Regions from separate parts of the Homo sapiens genome. Here region 1 is linked to region 2. A link means that fine-mapping ties the variant in region 2 to the expression of a gene that starts in the linked region. Tissue or cell type: caudate. Region 2 holds a variant in brackets; the other region holds the start of a gene. All regions are shown on one strand. Distances are between the middles of the regions.

Region 1 (5,369 bases), 36 kb before region 2:
TCCTAGAATCTTCCCTACTTTACAGATGAGGAAATGGAGGCAAAAGCCAATGAATTAATGAGTGAATGAATGAATGAGTGAATGAGTGAATGAATGAGTGAATGAGTGAATGAGTGAGTGAATGAATAAGTGAGTGAATGAGTGAGTGAATGAATGAATGAATGAGTGAATGAATGATTGACTGAGTGAGAGAATGAATGAGTGAGTGAATGAATGAGTGAGTGAGTGAATGAGTGAGTGAGTCAATGAGTGAGTGAGTGAGTCAATGAATGAGTGAGTGGGTCAATGAATGAATGACAATGAATCAGACTTCCCAAGAGTGGGTGCATTTCCACCATGACTGTGTGGGAAGGAGAGAACATATCATCCAGACTTGGTTTTTGTTGCTCAAAACAAATGCAAGCAAACTCTTGGGCCCACCAGAGCAGTGGCCGAAAGCCGCAGACCCTATCCATTGTGTGGGGGATTTCAGTGGGATTCTTGGGCTTTCAGGAGCCTACAAGTGGACTCGCATTTCAACACCTGTGTTCTGTAGGGTTTTCTAGATCTAAGATTCCAGGATTCTATGAAAAGTTATGATAGCCCTGCCCCCTAAAAGATTGTAAGTTTAAACAACAACAAGAAGTCACAAACTGGTGCATCCCAATCCCATGGGTTCCATTTCACAGGTAAAAGGTGTCTGGGTGAATAAACTGCTGTGCCGCTCAAAGGACCCAAAGGAAGGTTCTTTGTGGGTTGGCGTCTGCAAATATCACCAGCTGCCTGGCTAGAGTGACCAGCTAACATACCCATGTGGACCCTGGGCATGAAGGGAGGTACCAGGCCAGGGGCAGTGGCTCATGCCTGTAATCCGAGCACTTTGGGAGGCCACTCTGGGAGGATTGCTTGAGCCCAGGAGTTCAAGACCAGCCTGGGCAACATGGCGAGAACCTGCCTCTACAAATAATTTTTAAAATTAGCTGGACATAATGGCATGCACCTATAGTCCCAGCTACTTGGGAGGCTGAGGAGGGAGGATCACTTGAGCCTGGGTGATTGAGACTGCAGTGAGCCATGATGGCACCACCGCACTCCACCTTGGGTGACAGAGCAAGACCTCACCTCAAAAAAAAAAAAAAAAAGAAAGAAAGAAAGAAAGAAAGAAAGAAAGAAAAGAAAAGAGGCTGGACGCAGTGGCTCATGCCTGTAATCCTAGCACTTTAGGAGGCCGAGGTGGGTGGATTGCCTGAGCTCAGGAGTTCGAGACCAGCTTGGGGAACACAGTGAAACCCCGTCTCTACTAAAAATACAAAAAATTGGCCGTTGTGGTGGTGTGTGCCTATAATCCCAGCTACTCAGGAGGCTGAGACAGGAGAATTGCTTAAACCTGGGAGGCAAAGGTTGCAGTGAGGCAGGATCACGCCATTGCACTCCAGCCTGGGCAACAGAGCGAGACTCCATCTCAAAAAAAGAAAGAAAGAAAAGAAAAGAAACGAAGAAAAGAGGCTGGGCGTAGTGGCTCACACTTGTAATCCCAGCACTTTGGGAGGCCGAGGCAGGCAGATCACCTGAGGTCAGGAGTTCAACACCAGCCTGGCCAACGTGGTGAAACCCCATCTCTACTAAAAATACAAAAAATTAGCTGGGCATGGTGGTGGGCGCCTGTAATCCCAGCTACTCAGGAGGCTGAGGCAGGAGAATTGCTTGAACCTGGGAGGCAGAGGTAGCAGTGAGCCGAGATCACGCCATTGCACTCTAGCCTGGGCAACAGAAGTGAAACTCTGTCTAAAAAAAAAAAGAAAAGGAAAGAAAGAAAGGTGGCCCTGTTAATGTTTATGCCAAGACAGCAGGCATGACCTGGAAGTGTCCGAAGCCACAGGGCATCTTGCTTCCGGGGAGGATGAATGAATCAAATCGCACCTATTTTAAGGCAAGCAAGGACTCCATGACTTCAGGAGCCCTGGTGGGTGGACAGAAGCTCCCTGCTCCCCTGGCCTGTCTACCCAGCAGCGCTTTGGCCAGTCCCATTCCTGTACTTCTGAGCCTGCCTGCCAGTCCCTCCTCACATGCACACCATGGCTTTGTGCCTGGTATTGAGTGTCCCGGAGCCCCAAACCACACGGTCAACCCCATGAAAGAAACAGGGACTCTGCTCTCATCCACTCGCCCCCGCCTCCCGCGTAATCCCCTGGTGCTCACGCAGCCCCACCGTACAGTTTTTCTAGCTCCCTGGCAGACTTGTGCTCCTGTTTGCCAGATCAAAGCCCAGTGACCTGAGTGGCCTGTCCCCAGCAGAGGCCACTAATCCCTGTGGACCCACCCTGTTGGGAAAGGCATGGGTTGAACTTTAACCATTAGGCTCAGGGGTTGGGATGAGTTTCTACAAAAAGAGGTGGGTACACGCCAGTCCACAGTGGTCCTGATCAAAGTGAGAACAGACAGCAGGGAACATCACCCTCTTCAGACTGGAGTCAGTGGGAACAGACCCAAGATGTTGGGGAGGAACACTTGGAAGACCTCAGCTTTCTCCTTCTTGGTTGAGCAGATGTGGGCCCCTCTCTGGAGTCGTTCGATGAGGCCAGGGCGATGGTGTTCTCAGCGTTCCTGTGCATGGCAAACCAGCAATAACACTTGTAAGTAGAGCCTCAAATTTCCTAAGATGCGACTGGATCCTTGTCTTAGCTGATGGGGTCTTTCGAGAGGAGAGAGGAGAGACCGTCCCGAGCCAGATGGGTTCAGATTTCCACTCCGTTTTTTTTTTTTTTTTTTTAAGATGGCGTCTCGCTCTGTGGCCCAGGCTGGAGTACAGTGGCGTGATCTCAGCTCACCACAACCTCCACTTCCCGGGTTCAAGCGATTCTCCTGCCTCAGCTTCCTGAGTAGCTGGGACTATAGGTGCATGCCACCACTCCTGGCTAATTTTTCGTATTTTTAGTAGAGACAGGGTTTCACTGTGTTAGCCAGGTTGGTCTCGAACTCCTAACCTCGCGATCCGCCTGTCTCAGCCTCCCAAAGTGCTGGGATTGCAGGCATCAGCCACGGCGCCCGGCCCTCTTTTTTCTTTTTTTGATGAAGTTTTGCTCTTTTGCCCAGGCTAGAGTGCAATGGCATGATCTCGGCTCACTGCAACCTCTGCCCTCCAGGTTCAAGTGATTCTCCTGCCTCAGCCTCCAAAGTAACTGGGACTACAGGCACCCGCCACTGCACCCAGCTAATTTTTTGTATTTTGGTAGAGATGGGGTTTCACCATGTTGGCCAGGCTGGTCTCGAACTCCTGACCTCAGGTGATCCACCCACCTTGGCCTCCCAAAGTGCTAGGATTACAGGCGTGAGCCACCGCGCCTGGCCACACTCCGTTTCTCTTGTATTTGGTGACCTTGGGTGAATCATTTAGCCTCCGTTTCAGGGGTCCTGGGGAGGGCAAGATGCTGGGAGCAGGCGGGTAGTCCGTGTTCGCACGGGACACACTGGCACGACTCACCATCCAGACCCGGCGGAATGGGCTGCACTAACCAGTCACGATCGCTCCTAAACTCTTCGGCAGAGAACGCTTTCAAGCAAACCTGTAACAAATAAACCACTCAGCCAGCTCTGCCAAGAAACTGCCCCGTGCCAGCCCCTCCTGGCTTCATGGTCAGTGCCTTGTGACCTTGAACGAGGCCCTTCCTCTTTCTGGGTCTCAGGTGCTTCCTCCGTAGAATGAGAGCCTGCTTTGGCAGCTGCCAAGTTCTCTTCTAACTGAAATCTTCCATGCATTCCATGTTTGGGCCATTGAAAGAGCATGGGCTTAGGAGCCAGACCCCAGGCATGCAGTCCGACTGACGCTTGCTGAGGTGGAGCCTCGGCAGGTCTTCACCCCCAAGCCTCTGTGTCCTTATCTCGAGATGGGGGTGGCCAGACTTTCTCTCCAGGGCCATGGAAGGATGACACGATGCGTGTAGAAAGCCTGGCCCACCCCAGACTCTGAGTGAGCTACACTCATTCCTCCTGTTGGGGTCCACACCTGTGGACTGGAGTGCAGTGGTGCGATCTCGGCTCACTGCAGCCTCTGCCTCCTGGGTTCAAGCGATCCTCTTGACTCAGCCTCCCAAGTAGCTGGGACTACAGGCGTGTGCCACCACGCCCAACTAATTTCTGTATTTTTAGTAGAGATAGGATTTCGCCATGTTGGCCAGGCTGGTCTCAAACTCCCGACCTCAGGTGGTCTACCTGCCTCGGCCTCCTAAAGTGCTGGGATTACAGGCGTGAGCCACTGCACCCACCCCCCTTTTTTATTCTTAGTACGACCGTCAAGAGCGCTAGCCTGCCTAGATTGGAATCTTGGCCCCACTGCTCTATGGCTGTTGCCCCTCTGTGACTTTCCTTTATTTTTTGAGACTAATTTCTGTCTTGTTGCCCAGGCTGGAGCGCAGTGGTGCGATCTCCAGCTCACCGCAACCCCCACCTCCCAGGTTCAAGCAATTCTCCTGCCTCAGCCTCCCGAGTAGCTGGAATTACAGGCATGCGCCACCACATCCGGCTAATTTTGTATTTTTAGTAGATACAGGGATTCTCCATGTTGCTCAGGGTGGTCTTGAACTCCCAGCCTCAGGTGATCTGCCCGCCTCAGCCTCCCAAAGTGCTGGGATTGCAGGCGTGAGCCACCACGCCCAGCTGTCCCCTCTGTGACTTTCTTAACTTCCCCCAGCCTTGGTTTTGTCGTCTGTAACAGGGGGTTGATAATGGTGCTTACGGCACAGTGTCGTTGGGAGAAGGGTCCGAGGTGGGGCCTGCAAAGGCTGGGGACAGCACATGGCTCCAGGAAGCCCTTGCTAGACGCCAGCTGCTGCTGTTGCTAACACAGGCAGCGGTGGGTGCCCTGTGTCTATTTAAGCATTTCCCTGTCAGTGGGCAGCAGGTAGCATTCCATTTCTTACTGTGGCAACATGTCCTCTTACATCGTGTGCTAGAGAGAGTCATATTCTGTATCGGCACCTAAATCCATTTACACCATGGTCCTCAACCTGTTCCCAGTGAACAGAGGGCTCTGCCAAATCATTTCAGAGTTCCACAAAGAGCAGAATATTCTGCCAAGCAGAGAAGATTGGAACATCATAAGGAATTCATCCTTCTATGTCGGTGTTTTATTTATGGGCATTCTGAAGATTATTTCACTTGGAAAAAGAATATTGTTACTAAAAATTATTGAAAAATCACTGGTGGTTTGGCCTTGAGAGAAAAGTCAAAGAGTTACAAAACGCTCAGTGATAATTTTAGAACCAGGCATGGGGGCTCACACCTGTAATCCCAGCACTGTTTTGGGAGGCTGATGTGGGAGGACAGCTCAAGCACAGGAGTTCAAGATCAGCCTGGGCAACATAGCAAGAACCCATCTCTAAAAAAAAAAAAAA
Region 2 (5,369 bases):
AATTCTGTGAAATACCAAAATTACAAGGAAGCTGTCGTGGGAGAGAATGGTTTGGCTGTGATAGGCGTGTTTTTAAAGGTAATCACTTGCTCGGGTGTAGATCTAATGAAGAAAGTGGTGATCCATCATTAGGATTGCTTTTTTTTTTTTGAGACAGGACTCGCTGTGTCACACAGGCTGGAGTGCAGTGGCACAGTCTCGGCTCATTGCAACCTGCACCTCCTGGGTTCAAGTGATTCTCCTGCCTCAGCCTCCCCAGTAGCTGGGACTATAGGAGTGTGCCACCACACCCAGCTAATTTTTGTATTTTTAGTAGAGACAGGGTTTCACCATATTGGCCAGGCTGGTTTCGAACTCCTGACCTTAGATGATCCGCCCACCTCGGCCTCCCACAGTGCTAGGATCACAGGCATGAGCCACCGCACCTGGCCTAGGATTGCTTTTAAAACGTGGTGTATTTACAGTGGAGTGAGCTTCCCCCCCCATCCACTGCCTTTGCAGCTAACCCCTCCTTTGTCTGCCATGCAGCTCGGGGCCCATCATCAGACGCTGCAGAGGCTGGTGGACATCTTGCCGGAAATAAAACATAAGGTAAGCTGCATATTTGAAATCAGCAGGCCGGGCGCGGAGGCTCACGCCTGTAATCCCAGCACTTTGGGAGGCTGAGGCAGGTGGATCACGTGAGGTTGGGAGTTCGAGACCAGCCTGACCAACATGGAGAAACCCCGTCTCCACTAAAAATACAAAACTAGCTGGGTGCGGTGGCACATGCCTGCAATCCCAGCTACTCGGGAGGCTGAGGCAGGAGAATCGTTTGAACCCAGAGGTGGAGGTTGCAGTGAGCTGAGATCGTGTCATTGCACTCCAGCCTGGGTGACAAGAGTGAAATCCCATCTCAAAAAAAAAAAAAGAAAAGAAAAGAAAGAAATCAGTATAATCTGACAAGCAAAATTGTTTAGTGCAGCGATTCATTTGCAAGGAAAAAGAAATGGCGTAGTGGAAAGAGCCCCGCCAAGGGGCTGTGGTTCCAGTTCTGGAAATGGGATTCCGCAGGGTTGATGCTGGTGTGTCCACAGCTAGGTCTCTCTGACTTCGAATGCATCACCACTGCTCTGGGACCCTGTTTCCTCCTCCATAAAATAAGGGTGTTGAGCTCAACAGAAGTTCCCAAAATTCAGCCATGCAGGCGAGATCCTGAAGACGTTTGACATATCTGCCTGCCAATGGGACAACTTTCTACTGAATATTTTTCTTTTCTTTTCTTTTTTATTTTTTCGAGGAGTCTCCCTCTGTCACTCAGGCTGGAATGCAGTGGCGCGATCTTGGCTCACTGCAACCTCCGCCTCCCGGGTTCAAGCAATTCTCTTGCCTCAGCCTCCCATGCGGCTGGGACAATAGGTGTGCGCCACCATACCCAGCTAATTTTTGTATTTTTAGTAGAGACGGGGTTTCACCATGTTGGCCAGGCTGGCTGGTCTCAAACTGCTGACTTCAGGTGATCCGCCCGCCTTGGCGTCCCAAGGTGCTGGGATTACAGGCGTGAATCACCGCGCCCAGCCTAGTTAATATTTTTCTTTAAATTGATTAGCTCGAAAAATTTTTAGCCTTGTCCTGGGTGATGGTATTCACTAATGATAAAGTTTGTTTTAAAACAGATTGAAACAAAAACCTCAAATCCCTAACTAATAACATTTAAGAATGTTGACTCATGTACCACCCAGCACTCTCCTTGAACGTCCCTGTCCGACCCCAAGCCCAAGGGCGGAGAGAAACCTGCCCAAACCGCAGCTCTCCGCCCAGCGATCCATAGGCTTCCCTGTATCCAGCGCAGCTCGAAAAGATGGTGGGGACAACAGTGTCGCCTTTCTCCAAGATCAGCTGAGAAAAGGCTTTGAGGGAGAAGGAGAAATTCCAAAGAAATGTAGTTTATTTATTCAGCAGCATACAAAAGAATTCCAGGGCAGAAGGAGTCAACGCAAGCCTCACATGTGCGGACGGATGAGGCTTCAACCTGTGTTAACAATGGTGGAGGCTGGTCCAGATGGAGCTGGGACCAGCCCTTCCTCGCGGTTCAAGGAGACGTTTGATCTGTACGTGGCCTTCGCCTTGATGCTGGCTTCGGGGTGGCCTCCTGGGACTGGGACCAGATCACCCCCTGCCGCCCCATCTGCCTGCTCAGGAACTTCACAAGGCCACGGTTCTGAGAGCTCTGACGCCCCATCCTCTTCCTCCACGCGGCTCCACAGCCAGAGGAAACCTGGGCAGGGGTTGTTTTCCCAGCCAGCCTCCACCTCCCACACCAGGTGGTCCCACCTCTTGGTGGGAAAGAAAAGAGCTG[A/G]TTGTGAAGGACCCTTTACCCAAGGGCTGTTTTCCTCCCGGGGAAGGTTCTGGAGCATTTCTTCTCCATGGGGTAAGTCAGAATTTTCTAGGCAAACCACAGGGGAGGAATGATGCCCGGGACAGGGGAGGAAGTGCCACCGCGGACTGAGCTCTGGTCCTGATGCTGATCTCTGGGCTCATCCCCTCAGCTGAAAATAAAGAGTTAGACTCTTTTTTTTTTTTTTTTTTTTTTTTTTTTTTTTTGAGATAAAATCTCGCTCTGTTGCCCAGGCTGGAGTGCAATGGTGCGACCTCGGCTCACTGCAACCTCCGCCTTCCAGGTTCAAGTGATTCTCCTGCCTCAACCTCATGAGTAGCTGGAAGTACCGGCGCCCACCACCATGCCTGGCTAATTTTTGTATTTTTAGTAGAGACGGGATTTCACCATGTTGGCCAGGCTGGTGTCAAACTCCTGACCTCAAGTGATCTGCCCACCTTGGCCTCCCAAATTGCTGGGATTACCGGCGTGAACCACCGCACCTGGCCGAGTTAGACCTTTGAGAAATTAAAAGACCTTAAGAGGCTGGGTGCGGTGGCTCACGCCTGTAATCCTAGCACTTTGGGAGGCCAAGGCGGGCTTATCACTTGAGGTCAGGTGTTCAAAACCAGCCTGGCCAACATGATAAAACCTCATCTCTACTAAAAATACAAAAATTAGCCAGGCGTGGTGGCGGGTGCCTGTAATCCCAGCTACTCAGGAGGCTGAGGCAGGAGAATTGCTTGAATCTGGGCGGTGGAGGTTGCAGTGAGCTCAGATTGTGCCACTACACTCCAGGCCGAGTGACACAGCGAGACTCATCTCAAAAAAAAAAAAAAAAAAAAAAAAAAGACCTTAGGAGGTAAAAGGCCCAGCCTTGGGAGCAAGAGTCTGTGCTTCATGGGCCAGGGAATGGGAAGAGACTTGAACAACTCTCTCGCCTAGAGGCTCCTAGCCTAGGACTTCTGGGAGCTTCTCCCATAGCACAGTGTATCAGAGAGCCCCACAGTTGGACTCCTGGGTTCAGAGCCCAGATCCACCACTCCTGAGCTGCGCACCTCTGAGCCTCAGCTTCCTCGCCTGTGAAATGGAGATATTAAACATCCACAGTAGCCCAGGTATGGTGGCTCACACATGTAACCCCAGCACTTAGGGAGACTGAGGTGAATAGATCACCTGAGGTCAGGAGTTCAAGACCAGCCTGGCCAACATGGCAAAACCCCGTCTCTACTAAAAATACAAAAATTAGCTGGGTATCGTGGCACACTCCTGTAATCCCAGCTACTCAGGAGGCTGAGGCAGGAGAATCGCTTGAACCCAGGAGACGGAGGTTGCAGTGAGCCGAGATCGTGCCACTGCACTCCAGTCTGGGTGACAGCTCGAGAATCCGTCTCCAAAAAAAAAAAAAAAAAAAAAATCCACACTAGAGCAGCATTCTCACCATGTAATGGAATAAGGAGCATGTCTGGTTCTTGGTGAAATGTGCAGTTGAGTTTAAGGCCCAGCTGTGGCCAACACTCACACACTCAAGTCTGCTGTGGAAGGCACAGGCTGCTGCTGCCCGTCACGAAACGAAAATCCACCAGCCCAATCACTAAGGTTAAAATCGCTTTTTGTTGCTGCGGGTGCTTTCTGTCAGGTGATTCCCAGAGAGAGCTATTACCTTCTGGGAGCCCATGAAATTTTAGAATGATGGCCTTGTGATGGAAAATGCTAGAAGTGTGGTTGAATCTAATTCCTGATTGGTGGGCAGTGCAGGGCAGGACAGGGCCATGGTGGCCTCAGGCTCAAGGGCAGATGGCCTTGGCTTCAAATCCCAGCTCTGCCACTCCCCCGCGGACTCAGCAGTTCTCACCCAGGGACGGGCTCACCTGCAGCTTCTGGGCTGCTTTCCTGGTTTCCTCCAGTTAAGGAACAAGTTGTCCTGAATTAGGGCAGGAAAGACCAGAGTCACGTAGTCCCCATCATCTCTCCTGGTTCCAGGCTGGTCCGGGCCCTGCTGTGGGACTGACTCGGCAGAGACCCTCCAGGAATGCCTGCCACGGTCACTCCCTGGGGACCCAGCTGGCTTCTATGCAGTGCTCAGGGCTCCAAGGGTGCATTTCCAGAAAGAGCCAGATGGACACGATGTCCTTTTCTGCCCTGGCTTCCAGAGTCACAAAGCACTGCTCCTGCGGCATCCTGTTTACCACTCCCGTCAGGAGCACCTGCCCAGGCTCAGGGCAAGGGGACATCACCCTACACCTCGGCGGAAGGGGTTCAAAGAAGCGACAGCCCTCCACATAAATTATCACACTGAATCTTCCAATCACTCCACGGGGCAGGGCCTGTGATTCATCTGTCTTGCACACACAGGAAAACCAAAGCTCAGAGAGGCAGAGAAGGCCTTGCCCGAGCACACAGCTGGCAGGTGAAGAGCCCGTTTTTAAACCCAGGAAGTGGGTCCACGCAGCCTGAAGTCCCAGTCATCCTGGCGCCCACCTCCCGCATGCAGTCAGAACCCAGGCTGAGCTCCAGCCCCTGCTGCACATTTCTGAGCTTTTCAGCAGCTTAGAGGGAAACACAGGCAGTGTCTGTAACCAAAACCACATCAGGCGCTGCCTGGAAGCCTGGACCCCCACCCCCACCCCCAGCACCATCCCATCTGCACAGGCCCCTACCAGTGCCGACCTGTCACTATGCACTCAGCTCCCAGCACGCAGGCACAGCCCCAGTGTGGTCCTGGTGACCCCGGGCAGACAATTCCAGAATGGAGACCTCAAGGCTTCGCCTTTGACCCTCTCACCATAGCCAGAAGTTTTGGCAAAAACTGCCCACAGAGGGTCCCCACCCTCCATGCCTGGACAAGCCGCAAGCTCCTCAGGCTGCTGGGGTCCCCCCTCCTCCCTGCCTTCGCAACAGTCAGAGCTACCGGGGAATTGGCTGCCTTGTGGAGGTGGAAACAGCCCACCAGGTCCAGGGGATCCAGGGAACGGCTCTGTGCCCTGTGGGGGCTCTTCTAGCTTTGGCAGCA

Evidence for each region. PIP is the estimated chance that this variant, and not a neighbour inherited with it, causes the effect. A credible set is the group of variants that fine-mapping cannot tell apart.
Region 1: it holds the start of CA5A, and the variant in region 2 is the best candidate, but not a certain one, in a credible set for the expression of CA5A in caudate (GTEx, PIP 0.78).

What each region holds. Positions count from the first base shown.
Region 1 is chr16:87,933,552-87,938,920 of GRCh38, reverse strand. CA5A (carbonic anhydrase 5A) reads left to right here and starts at 2,392. Exons shown (of 7, transcript NM_001739.2): 1 at 2,392-2,612. The coding sequence starts at 2,471.
Region 2 is chr16:87,897,134-87,902,502 of GRCh38, reverse strand. CA5A (carbonic anhydrase 5A) reads left to right here. Exons shown (of 7, transcript NM_001739.2): 4 at 1-78; 5 at 529-591. Among named protein-coding and RNA genes, the nearest start is that of SLC7A5, 30 kb to the right of the region's middle. RefSeq lists an enhancer at 3,969-4,668. The variant A/G (reference allele first, on the strand shown) is at 2,339.